4 linked regions of the Homo sapiens genome follow. The protein of the gene in region 1 interacts with the protein of each later gene in a biochemical or structural test. Each region holds a gene or a part of one and is shown on either strand. Other genes may lie near its edges.

Region 1 (3,500 bases):
GAATTTAGAGTGAAATAAAAATGAAAAAAAGCAAGAAATATGTTACGACTTTTAGAGCTAGATGTGAAACATACTGATATAAAATTTCAGTGTTCTATTAAGTGACTTTAGTGCTCATAAAAGATGTCACAGCTGTGGAGACTGGTGCTCTTCATTTACAGAATAGGTAGAAAAGTAGTCAGCTTTTCCGTTAGTATGTTTCAGAGCTGTTGGGGCAGATCTGTTTCTGTTTGGCATGGGGAGCTGTTGGGGTTGAAGGGGTGCTGGTGGTGGTGTGTGTGGTGTGTCAGTGAAAGGATTCACTATTTTCTGTTGACTCTTTGTGGCTCTGTGCTTCCTGATGCTTCCATTCTTTTGCAGTGCTTTTTGGTTTGTCTTACAAAAATTTCAGTCCATTAAAGATCGGTGTTACAACATTGCTTTGGCTTAGAGCAAGCTACAAGTTAAATCTTTAGTGATGATGAATTTTCATCAGTGTCAAATAGCTATCCATTTGGACTAAGTTATAGTAATTAAAAAATTTTGCTTTATTTGAGGTATCTTTACCTGTTCTTATTCTTGATCATATCAGAAACAGTTTTATTTCAAGTTGTAATTTGATTAAGAGTAATCAAAAGGATCCATTTCAAAAGGAATTTGTTCAGTGTACCTATAATTTTTAAAGATATATTTTTTGCTGTTAATGGTACTTATTAAGTATAGGTATTTTGTTTTTAAAAAGGTGTCTGAGAAGATAGCTATACAGTGCTGAAAGTGATTATTAGGTGACAAAACCATGGGGAGCACAAGGCCTTTTAGAGTCTGGGCATGAGTTTTGTTGGTTCAGTTCTGGATTTGTCAGAACACTTTAAGCTAGTCAGCTCATAAGGGATGTATTCATAGTCATCAAACTCAGAAATTGATTATGATAGAATGACAGTTGAGGAGAGATACTCCTTTTCACTTACTGGAATTGTTTGTGTCTGCTGTCTAGATTATAACAGCTACCTAAATATCAAGGTATTGAGGAAATTGAGTTGGTAATCAGAACTGCTTGGGGGGCCTGAACTCAGAGCAAAGGGAATTTGAAAGCCTTGAGGGATATTTTAGCCAGAATGTGGGGAAAAAAAAAAAAATCTTCAGTGTCTTCATCTCTTGTGAAATATGGTTGCTTTAGTATATAGCTGAATGCTGTCATATGGTTCAATTTTTATTTAGAATCATGCAGTCATGCAGGCCTCTGTGTTCTTCTGTTATCACAAAGGTTACTTAAAACCACTTACTAGTTTGGAGAATTTTAACCTTAGCCCAGCCCTGAGGATGTATTGATTGAATAGGGATTTGAAAGTGTCGTCCCATTTTTGTGTTCCCACAAGTATTTGTACTAACCTTCGTTTTTGTACTTAGCAAGTTGGCTAGTCGAGGTTTTTCACAGTTGTGGGACCAAAGGGCTTAGCACAGCGCCTGGTAGAGAGTAGACCCTTAATCATTTTTGTCTTATTTTCTGTAACAGCATTATTGATATATAATTCACATACTATAAAATTTACCCTTTAAAAATGTACAACTCTGTAGTTCTTAGAATATTTATTATTAGAATTGTGCAAGATTATAATTATCTAATTTAAGAACATTTTTATCACCGCACAGGGAAGCATCATACCCATTAGCCGTCACTCTTCACTACTCTCCCCTCACTCCCTGGCAACCACTTACCCATTTTATTTTTTTATTAATTTTTTTTTTGAGACAGGGTCTTGCTCTGTCACTCAGGCTGGAATGCAGTGGTATCAATCATATTTTTATTTTTTGTAGAGATCGAGTCCCACTACGTTGCCCAGGCTGGTGCTCCCTGAGCTTCCCAAAACATTGGGGATTACAGGCGTGAGGTTCACTACTGAATTTTATGTTTATGGATTTGCCTGTTCAGGACATTTCATATAAATAGTCAAACAGTTTGTGGTCCTTTGTGGCTGGCTTCTTTCACTTACCAGAATGTTTCAAGGTTCATCCATTTTGTAGCATGTAGACACAGTACTTCATTCTTTTTTATGGCTAACAGTACATTATGTGAATATACTACTATATTTTGTTCATCCATTCATTTGTTAGTGGATATTTGAGTTGTTTCCAGTTTTGATTATTATGAATAATGTTGCTATGAACATTTCATGTATAAATTTTGTATGTTTTCATTTTAGAATACATTTTGAATGGATGAAGGAAAAGTTTTAGCAACTCCCAAAGCTGCATTGTTTTGTAAATGACCAATTTAATCCATTTTATATTGAGATTTACTTGTTTTACTTTGAGGCTCATTCTCTGTGTTCTGGAGGTAGCTTACTGTAGTACAGCTAAATAAATGATTTTTGATTCTTTAATCCAGGATCTAAAATGTCCACTGAGGCACAAAGAGTTGATGACAGTCCAAGCACTAGTGGAGGAAGTTCCGATGGAGATCAACGTGAAAGTGTTCAGCAAGAACCAGAAAGAGAACAAGTTCAGCCCAAGAAAAAGGAGGGAAAAATATCCAGCAAAACCGCTGCTAAATTGTCAACTAGTGCTAAAAGGTACTTCAGTTATTATAACCTTTTTATTGTTGGTATCAATTTATCATCTTAAGTTCTATTTTTCTCTTGCATTTAATCATTTTTTCTGGGATGTCGGCCGTGAACTTCATGGATTTTTCTTTTCCCTTCAAGATGATCTCGTTTACATGGTTTTAACCATAGGGAACTTCAGTATTTAAAGTCAGTTAAATGGCAAGGCAAATTCATAACATACATTTCCATAGTGTGTTTGTGTGTTTATGTATTATCAGGGAAACATATACAGGGTGTGTATGTAAAATTGCAGTAGTTTCATTTATGGTTACTTGACCATAAATATTTTTTTTCTGTTCAGTAACACAGAATAGAGATTAGGAATCTTTGAAGTAGTTACTGAGTGAGTGACAGTTTATTTTCCACTACTCCCAGTTGGTAAAGTCAGAAATGCTGACATTAGCAACAGGTGCATCTTGGTTTCATTACATTAGTCAGTGGATCCATCTTGATACGGATTTTCTCTTTCTCTAGAGAATAGATGGATCTGGAAAGTAGGTATTTGAATGATTTTCTGTTGGTACTCAATCTCTTAAAATGATTGGCATGTCACTGGACTTAAAGGGAATCTGTTTGATATTGTTACATTATAGAATATCTCTTGGAAAATAATTTGAAAGATAAATTAAATGTAGTGTCTTTCCTGATCCTGTGATTTTATGTTCTTGCTTTGTTTTCATATATTTTACATTGACCAAGTCGGAAGTATACATAAAAGCGATCTGTAACTTGTAGGCATAGTGGAATGCCTGAATGTTGTATTACAGCTTTATATGTTATTTTATGGTGTGGGTTAAGGGGAACTCCTTTCTCAAAGATAAAAAACCATTATTTTGTTCTAGTAGACCTTGTTTTCCTTTGGCTTAGTCAGTCTACAGGGTTGGAAAGAACCTTCTCAGGACCCTTGGTGAGAGATGT
Region 2 (3,500 bases), on another chromosome or scaffold:
TTAAGTGACTCTTCCACTTCACTGGACAATTATTTCATACCTTCTTTTCTTTGCTCTTACTTCCTTTATCTTCTTATCCCCTTCACTCTGAGCTACTAAGCTAGCTTCTTATTTCAACTAAGAAAATATTCTTTCTTTATCATAGCCCCAACTATCTCTGTAATTTCCTCATTTAAGACTCTTCCCCTTGTATATTCTCTTCTAGACGAGTCCTGACCTTAAAAGCTTTTCAAGGCCTTTCTCTGCACTTATTTCTGCTGCCTACATTGCTCTTTCACTATTCCTTTACTTCCTTCAGGTTTCTGCTAAAATGTTACTGTTATCAGAGGTTTTCCTCACTTCCATCCCATATAAAATTATACCAGCTCCATCACTCTTTCTTTTCCCTGTTGTATTTTTCCTTCTTAGCACTTACACTCACACTGCAATATTATGTACTTATTAGCATTTTTGTTTATAGTCCCTCTCCGCCCAAAATACATTGGTCCAATGTATTTTATACATTCCTTCAGAAGGTATTATTATGTTATTCATGTATGTATTTTATTATCTATCTTCTCACAAAGGCATGTAAGCTCTATAACAACAGGGGATCTTTATGTATCTTGTTCACTGACAGAACTCCAATATATCTAATTTTTAATACCCACAATGATATAGTGGGCATAAAAAAATATTAACTGAGTAGCTCATACAATCTAAGTCTATACTGATCTTTTTTAAAATTCCACACTAGAATAAAATTAGTATTAATCAACAGTTTGTGATTCTGACAAATCTACTTCAAACTCAAGTTGCACTGACAAGAGCAAGAGCAAGAACCATTCATTGTGATATTCTCCAGGTTTAGAATGGGACTTGGTACAAGTCCAAATTCCCAAACTATTTGCTGAATGAATGATTTTTTAAACATACCTTATTGGAAGGCTTGAATTCCTGAATCTTTACTTCTGAAAGAATATTCAAGAGGGCATCTGCTGATAAGTCCTGTTTTTAAAAAAGTAATTTTACCAACAAACATATTCTTCTAAATTCTAAAGCTAAAAATATCCTACAAAAGGTCCTTAATCATATTACAATATATGAATATTTCATTATCTGAATATGTAGACATCCATTTGAGACATTTATCTTTATTTCTATAAAAATATCCCCCCATAAAGGTTATGGGGGAGGAGAAGGTAAGGGGTAAAAAAGTACTTATTAGTCAACAAACTTGAAATTTTAGTCCTTCTGCAAATTTTTTAAAAGGCATTTTTAGGACTGGTTGTAAATATAAAACTGAGTGACTTGATCAGTCAGTTTTAATTCCCTTAGCTTTATGTTTTATGTTTTTAATGTTTTACAAAGTTCCCTGAAGTAAGTTATACTCAATAAGTAAAATAAGTAAATGGAATTCATACCTTAAGAAGGAGGGAGATATTTAAATGGTTAAAGATGAACTTATATGAATTTAAAGCTATGGGTTGTATTTACATTTGTCATTGAGAAGTTGCTTGGCAAAGGCTGAGACTTAGTGCTTTTGAGGTCAATTACCACACTCACCACTAAATTACCACTGATTTTCCCAAAAAGAATATCAGACTGAATGCCACTATTTTTACCAAATATTTACAGTTTATTTGTATGAATTCCAAAAAGGATTAATCTAAAACAGATATTGTTATCTGAATCCAAAACAGCCAGTGTTAATTATGGGATCTGATTCATGTTTCTCTATTTAGCCCACCTAAAAGTACAGCAATTTACTTAGCTAGAATATGCATTTGTGAAGAAAAGAGATGCCTCTCAAAACCGTATGAGGCTCTTTAGATGTTAGTCAATGAAGATGATGTTTAAGAGAATGAGTATGATGCTAAAGTAAGAAATGTCAATATAAGGGAGCATTTTCAGATTTCCTGAAAAGCACATAAATTATCACAAAATAACAAACAAATGTTAACAAAGAAAATCTCTACGCAGTATTTCAAAATTGCGATGAAATGGTTTGCTGTGGCTTTTTAGAATAACTAGGATAACTGAAGCTGCTAAGCAGGTTATAAATATTCTTAAAACAAAGTTTAACTGCTTTTAACAAATAATGCTGTTTCACTGCTTCAATTCAGAAGGAAAAATCCGACTTCTACTTAGCAATACTGCAATGAGCTTTTAGCTTCCATTATGTTAGTATGGGTAAAAATACAATAAAAATTCTGTATCAAAAAGAGTGATTCTTATAACAAACAAACATGTTTTGATGCAATTAGTGCATCAGTCATCTAATTCTAATTTGGTTTTGCATCACTTGCTAAGGCTTAAAGAATATCTTACCTCTTCTGCAAATGGAATACAATATACTGTAGCATATAGTTTTGCAGCATTCTGAAGGAAACTGAGGTGCCTTTTGAAATTAAAAAATAAAGCAAAATTTGAATGTACAGTTTTAAAGACGATATTTAACTCATTATGAACTATAGCCTTTAAATGTAGTTTGAAGAAATATAACCACAGAATTATTATTTCAAGTTTTTTTTTTTAAGTTAGACAAAAATATTCTGGTCTACACCAAAACACTACAGAAGTTATAAAAGACAAAACATCAAACAGTTATTCTCAAAAACACTTAACATTCAGGTAGTGATCATGACTACCTTGGGAAGAGGAGTGAGTGGACAGAACCAGAAAACTCAGACCAGTGAACAATAATTCATTTTAAGTCATAAGAAATATTATACATTTGGTCTTAATGAGTATATATCAAGTTCAAACTAAGTAAATGTGTTTATTTAAAAACAAAAAAAGAAAGTCTTATAGAAGAAGCAGTCCAGCATAAGGTGACTGGAAGCCTAAAACCACCACCAGATGAGAAAATTAAGCATAGAGTTATCTGCTGAAAGGAAGGTTAGTGAATGCAAGCTAAGTGTTTAAAAATATATATACATAAGGTTGGGTGTGGTGGTATGCACCTGTAATCCCAGCTACTTGGGAAGCTGAGGTGCGAGGATTGCTTGAGCCTAGGAGTTCAAGACCAGGCTGGGCCACATATGTGAGACCTTGTCTCTTTCAAAGAATAAAAACTAAATTAAAAAAATAGAAAAAATATACATATACACACAAGTGTGAATCTAATGTGTATCTAATATAGTGTTTCCAGGTATTCACACAAAGACCAACTCCTCTGAAAATAATTTGAGATTTAGGGAGTTATTCAGTAGTAATTATTTGTTCCTCCATATAACTGAAGATTCTTATATTTGATTTCATTAAATGTAAAAACACATTGTCATTTTACTAATTTATGGATAAAGTAAAAAAGGTGATTTTGGTTTCACCTTAGATATTTATTATAAATAATGAGGTTATTTACCATGTAAATGAATGGATTCACATTTGTGTGGGAAGGGTTGTGGCTGGCTTTCTTGGTCAGAATGACTTGTTAACTCTTAAATGAACAGGGATGAAATAATTTAACATTAAAGAGCCTAAGGTTTTCACTCTGCAATGTACAGTTAAGGAATTTA
Region 3 (3,500 bases), on another chromosome or scaffold:
CAACCTCAGGTGGTCTGCCCACCTCGGCCTCCCAAAGTGCTGAGATTACAGGCATGAGCCACCATACCTGGACAGTTGTTCAGTTTTTTTGAGACAAGGTCTTGCTCTGTCGCCCAGCATAGAGTGCAGTCACGCGATCACAGCTCACTGCAGCCTTGAACTCCTGAGCTCAAGTGATCCTCTGCCTCAGCTTCTGGGACAACAGGTGTATACCACTGTGTGCCACTAATTTTTTTCTTTTTTCTTTTTTTTTGTAGAGATGGAGTCTCACTAAGTTAACAAGGCTAATTTCAAACTCCTGGCCTCAAGAGAGCCTCCTGTCTTGGCCTCCCCAAATGCTGGGATTATAGGCATGAGCCACCAAGCCCATCCAGTTGCTTGTTTTTGAAGCCAATTACACATTAAGTGAAATGTCTAACTACGTTTGGGCATGTCAAGTATTTCAAACAATATTTTTTAATAGACCATGGCACCCATTTAAGCACAGCAATGGGTCATGCTTAATTTTTATCTGTGAAATGTCCTAATTTTACATATAATTTTATATCTTTAAATAAAATTAAATGTTATTTTCAAATGCATTACTACTTACCCCTTTGACTCCCTTTTTCAGCTTATCATCAATAAATAATGAGAGGTATTCAGGAGACCTGGAGTTGAGGTTGAGAAAATACTCAAAGTCACCCGCAATAGTTTGTTTAAAGAGACGGTCATTGTTGAATGATTCCAGGAGGAAGCGATCGAACCTACTCTTCAGATCCAATAAGCCCTTAGAAATAAAAACAAAATTTAGGACACATTATAATAATTTTTCCATAAATAATACACTTATGACCATGTATGTTTATCTTAACTTTGCTGGTAATAAACATGTATATTCATTTTTAAACTTACAGTTTTGATATTATTTTCAAGCCTATATCTAAGCCTCTATTAAAAATGTCAATGAGAGAAGTATTATAACTTCCATATATGTATTAATACAATGCAAACGAACCAAAGAACCTCCTCACTGTTTCTCATTCTCCTGTCTTGATGGAATGGGTTAGCCAGTGAAAAAAATTAGCTTAAAAAATGTACCAAAAAAAGCTGATTATGTTAAAACACAAAACATGGCACATAATTTATTCATAGTACTCCTTGAAAACAAAACATTTTCAAACAAAAAATACTTAAACCAGTTGTTTTTTCCAATATACTACAGTATACAAACACTAAGGCATACCAAAGAACCTCACATTCACTATTGAGGCTATTTAAACAAGGTCTTCATCAAAGAAGTTAAATGAAAAGTAGCAGCTGAATTTTAGCTCCCTGATATAAATACGCACACCTTGCAAAATCCTAAAATATGTAGGATAATTACAAATATTAATTTACTACTGGGACAATTAAGTTGAAAGTACACAATACACAGCATGGTAAAAGTGGCCTTTTTAGCACTTGTCAAAATGCCTTTATCATAAACACAGAGAATCTTCTGGGTTTACTTACCTGGATATAGTCAACAGGATTCTTTCCTTCTCCTTCTTCAGAAACAAGAGCTTTACCTTGCTCCCTCAAATAGGAACTCATACACTCACACATTGTTTTCAAACCATTTGGCACACGACTAAATAACTTGTACATGCAACCAAGGTCTACAAATCAGAAAACACAAATTGGCTACATTAAAGATTAAAGAAAAAAACACGAATCTCTGTTCACGCTATAATACTGAGAGAAGCTTATTTCTCCATTACCCCCATTTGCTGACCACATGACTATTAAAAATATACATATATTGATATGAAAACATGAAGAAGTAGGCTAGTTAATGGTTATTATTGTAATTTATAAAACACAACTTTTAGATGAGATGCTTTGAAACCATCAATTAAATGTCCTAGCAAATTTAAATTTACATGGAAGAGATGTCAAAAACCATAATAAACAAGTAATGTCACAAAAACATGGCAACTGCAGTTTTGAGTTCATAAATACTTTATCCTACATAACTCTAATGCAGACCTAATGACACTACAAAACGTCTACAAAAAGGGTCACTAATTAAGAGGTAATTGGTAGTCCCTGTAATGAGGAAGAAATTTTAAAGCCAGTTTAAGTCTTATGGGTATTTCCAAAGGTTTAACTGATAATCATGAAAACAAATCAAATGAACTATACTAGGATTTACTTCATTACACCTCAGGTAAAGTTTTTATGAAATGTATAATATAAATACCACTTCTTCAATATTTTCCTGAGAGCAATCCCTAATGTTTCCCAGGTAGCATCCTAAGCCAATATCTGTACTTCAAAATTTGGTCTATCTCACTATACTTTTTAAATTTAGAATGAAAACTCTGGATCCTATCCATTTTTTAATATCATTTTTCACAAGACTAAAATACAGATTTTAAAATACAGTTTTCCCATATGTCTAGTGTTTCTTTGCAATAACAACTTACTGGGAGAACACAGTGTCAGAACTTTACAATGATAATTTTAAAAGTTTTACAATCAATAACTTTTTAAAATGGCATTAAGAGTTTCTAGATCAGAGGCTGACCAATGTTTTTTCTGTAAAGTATCAGATAATAAATATTTTAAAATGTGAGCCATAGAGCTCTGACTCAACTACTCTGACGCTGTAGCAAGAAAGTAGCCACAGATAATACATAAATTATTCAGTGTGACTATGTTTCAAATAAAACTTCATGGACCCTGAAAATTTATATAAATTTTCATGTGTAAATACTCTTGATTTTTTTTTTTTTTTTAACAAAACTGGTAGTGCACCAGGCAGGCCCTAATTTGCCTACCTTGGTCTACAGTTCTAAGAGTAGTTTAGAGCTTAAAGTTGTATACATTTTTAAAATATTTCAAAGCAAGATTTACAAAGTTTTACTAAACTTTATTTCAGTGACTTTCAGCAGCAAATTTTAGTTAGTTTCCATTAATAATATATGCCCATAGTAACCTACACATGGCAATTTTATAGCTTCTCACATACTTAGCATAAATTACAACCAAGTTTCCCATATTTAGAACAGGTATTACAAATGCAACAATCTATGGACACATACTACAGTAAATGTGGCACACCAAATACTTCTAACAAAATGGTTCACAACTTGTCTATTTCAATCCTATGTTGTTGTAAGTTTTGCTTAGATATTACATGTTGTGTATTTAGTTGTACATAAATTACTACAATTTCATTGTATTTAAATGTTGGGGTAAAGGGAATGTAAAAGTAAATGAAAATAATTTGGCATGCAAAAATTAAATATCATTATTTCTACATACACTTAATAAAATAATAAGATACTGGCGAGACACGGTGGCTCACGCCTGTAATCCCAACACTTTGGGAGGCTGAGACGGGCGGATCACAAGGTCAGGATATCGAGACCACCCTGGCTAACACGGTGAAACCCCCCTGTCTTTAATAAAAATACAAAAAATTAGCCGGGCGTGGTGGCGGGAGCCTGCAGTCCCAGCTACTCATGAGGCTG
Region 4 (2,162 bases), on another chromosome or scaffold:
GCCACCCTGCCCTTTTTCCCCCCTCCAAATCAATCACCAATGAAGCCAGCAGTCTCTCCCAGGAAAGAAGTGGAAGGTGTCGGTAGATCAACCTGGCCCCGGGGGCCCAACCCTTGGTGGGCGGCCGGTCCTCAGGATCAGAGGTTGTCTCACCAGCTTGGCTGGATGGGTCTCCTGGTCTTCCTCCTGTCCCTCCGCTTGGCGCCCTCCACCATCCCCTCCAAAGCTTCCAGTGACAATCTCATTCCCTCCATAGCACAAGCGTCCTCCTGTAAAACGGGCATCTTTACAAAAAGGTTAAGGAATGACATGACTCCCAACCTAAAAGAGGCAAGGCCCTTCCATGGGAAATGTCAGGTGCAGGCAACTGGCAGGGGTGGGATTTGAGGGAGGGAAAAGAAGAAGAAACGTATGTTGCATAAATAAAGACCCTCCACCCAGTGGTGGGAGCAGGTCATACCCAGGGCTGGCGGTAGGAAAAAGAAGGAAGGGACATCTACTTTATTTTGTCCATATTCATATATTTATAGAGCTAGTATGTCAAAAACTTTACACAGTGACACCATTAGCCCCTGGCCCACCCCTCTCCTTCCCACTTCTGTGTTCGACCCTACTTAGACCCTCGCACACAAAGGTTGATCAAAGGCAGTGGCCACCTCAGACTAGTGCAATGCCAGTCCTGCAGGGGAGAGGCCTGGCAAGGTGAGGGTGAGTCTCCCACAGTCCAAGACAGGTCCCAGACCTTGGCCCACCCAGCGAGGACAAAGGGGCCTCAGGTCTCCAAACTTAGCTCATGTAAGAGCAACTGCCCACCATTGTCCCTGCCATGCCAACTTATATAGGCATGACCCTGGCCCAGCAGTGAGGCAGGCTGAGGGCATGGCGGGCTCAGGCCCGAGAGCTGAGGGTGGCAGGTGCGGAGTAGCGCTGGCGGGCATGCTTCTCACAGTACAGCTCGTCACCCACCCAGAAGTGCCCGCGCATCTTCAGGTTCAGCCCACAGTCGGCACAGGTGTAGCAGCCGGGGTGGCGGTACCGGCCCTCCTGGATGCGCACAGCCTGGTTCCTGAAGGGGAGGGAGAGGCTTTAGCTCAGAGCCACAGCACCAAGCAGGAGGCCACCATGCCCAGGGGGCCTGGTCCCCACTGTAGCATCAGGACCTGGGTGGAGCCCAAAGCCTTCTCAGAGACTAGACTTTTTTTTTTTTTTTTTTTTTTTTTTGAGATGGAGTTTTGCTCTTGTTGCCCAGGCTGGAATACAATGGTGTGATCTCAGCTCACAGCAATCTCTACCTTCCGGGTTCAAGCGATACTCCTGCACCAGCCTCCTGAGTAGCTGGGATTACAAGCATGTGCGACCACACCTGGCTAAGTTTTTGTATTTTTAGTAGAGACGGGTTTTACCGTGTTAGCCAGGACGGTCTTGCCCTCCCAACCTCAGGTAATCCACCCTCCTTGGCTTCCCAGAGTGCTGGGATTACAGGCGTGAGCCACTGCACCCGGCCCGAGACTTGATTCTTGAAGCTGCACACAGGAATCTCACTTTGACAAACCCCCTAACACACACAAACCCCCACCACCGCTGCCACTGCTGGGACCCCTAATTAAAAATAATAAAAATAAATAAGTCAGCCAGGCACAGTAGCTCACGCCTGTAATCCATGCCTAGGATCCCAGGTGGACAGATCACTTAAGGCCAGGAGTTTGAAACCAAACTGGGCAACATAGCAAGACCCCATCTCTACAAAAAATTTAAAAATTAGCCAGGTATGGTGGCACACGCCTGTAGTCCCAGCTACTCAGGAGGCTGAGATGGGAGGATCACTTGAGCCCAGGAGTTTGGGGCTGCAGTGAGCCATGACGGCACTACTGCGCTCCTGCCTGAGCAACAGAGTGAAACTCTATTAAAAATATTAAAAATTTTTTTTAAAAGTTGTTCCTCTCACATAAAGACTGTAAGTCCGTCCCACATTGCCTGGATTTTTAACAGAGCAGTGATTCTCAGTGTGGTCCTGGGTCCCACAGCCAGCAGCATCCGCATCACTGGGGAATTCGTGAGAAATGCACATTCTCAGGCCTGTTGGCCTCCTGGAGAGGAGGCTCTGGGGTGGGGCCCAGCCATCGGCATTTAACAAACCCTCCAAGGGACCCGACACACACACC

The links.
Region 2: of the proteins of UBE2E2 (region 1) and UBA6, one has a biochemical effect on the other in vitro, tested with the Homo sapiens proteins (one study listed by BioGRID).
Region 3: the proteins of UBE2E2 (region 1) and CUL3 form a complex in vitro, tested with the Homo sapiens proteins (one study listed by BioGRID).
Region 4: the proteins of UBE2E2 (region 1) and PDLIM2 form a complex in vitro, tested with the Homo sapiens proteins (one study listed by BioGRID).

What each region holds. Positions count from the first base shown.
Region 1 is NC_000003.12:23,206,327-23,209,826, forward strand, and holds part of UBE2E2 (ubiquitin-conjugating enzyme E2 E2), read left to right. Parts: intron 1-2,365; 5' UTR 2,366-2,373; coding exon 2,374-2,549; intron 2,550-3,500.
Region 2 is NC_000004.12:67,628,156-67,631,655, forward strand, and holds part of UBA6 (ubiquitin-like modifier-activating enzyme 6), read right to left. Parts: intron 2,381-3,500; coding exon 2,311-2,380; intron 988-2,310; coding exon 916-987; intron 1-915. UniProt on the Homo sapiens protein: Activates ubiquitin by first adenylating its C-terminal glycine residue with ATP, and thereafter linking this residue to the side chain of a cysteine residue in E1, yielding a ubiquitin-E1 thioester and free AMP.
Region 3 is NC_000002.12:224,505,364-224,508,863, forward strand, and holds part of CUL3 (cullin-3), read right to left. Parts: intron 1,641-3,500; coding exon 1,495-1,640; intron 770-1,494; coding exon 593-769; intron 1-592. UniProt on the Homo sapiens protein: Core component of multiple cullin-RING-based BCR (BTB-CUL3-RBX1) E3 ubiquitin-protein ligase complexes which mediate the ubiquitination and subsequent proteasomal degradation of target proteins.
Region 4 is NC_000008.11:22,592,637-22,594,798, reverse strand, and holds the end of PDLIM2 (PDZ and LIM domain protein 2), read right to left. Parts: intron 1,067-2,162; coding exon 889-1,066; 3' UTR 501-888; downstream 1-500. UniProt on the Homo sapiens protein: Probable adapter protein located at the actin cytoskeleton that promotes cell attachment. Necessary for the migratory capacity of epithelial cells. Overexpression enhances cell adhesion to collagen and fibronectin and suppresses anchorage independent growth.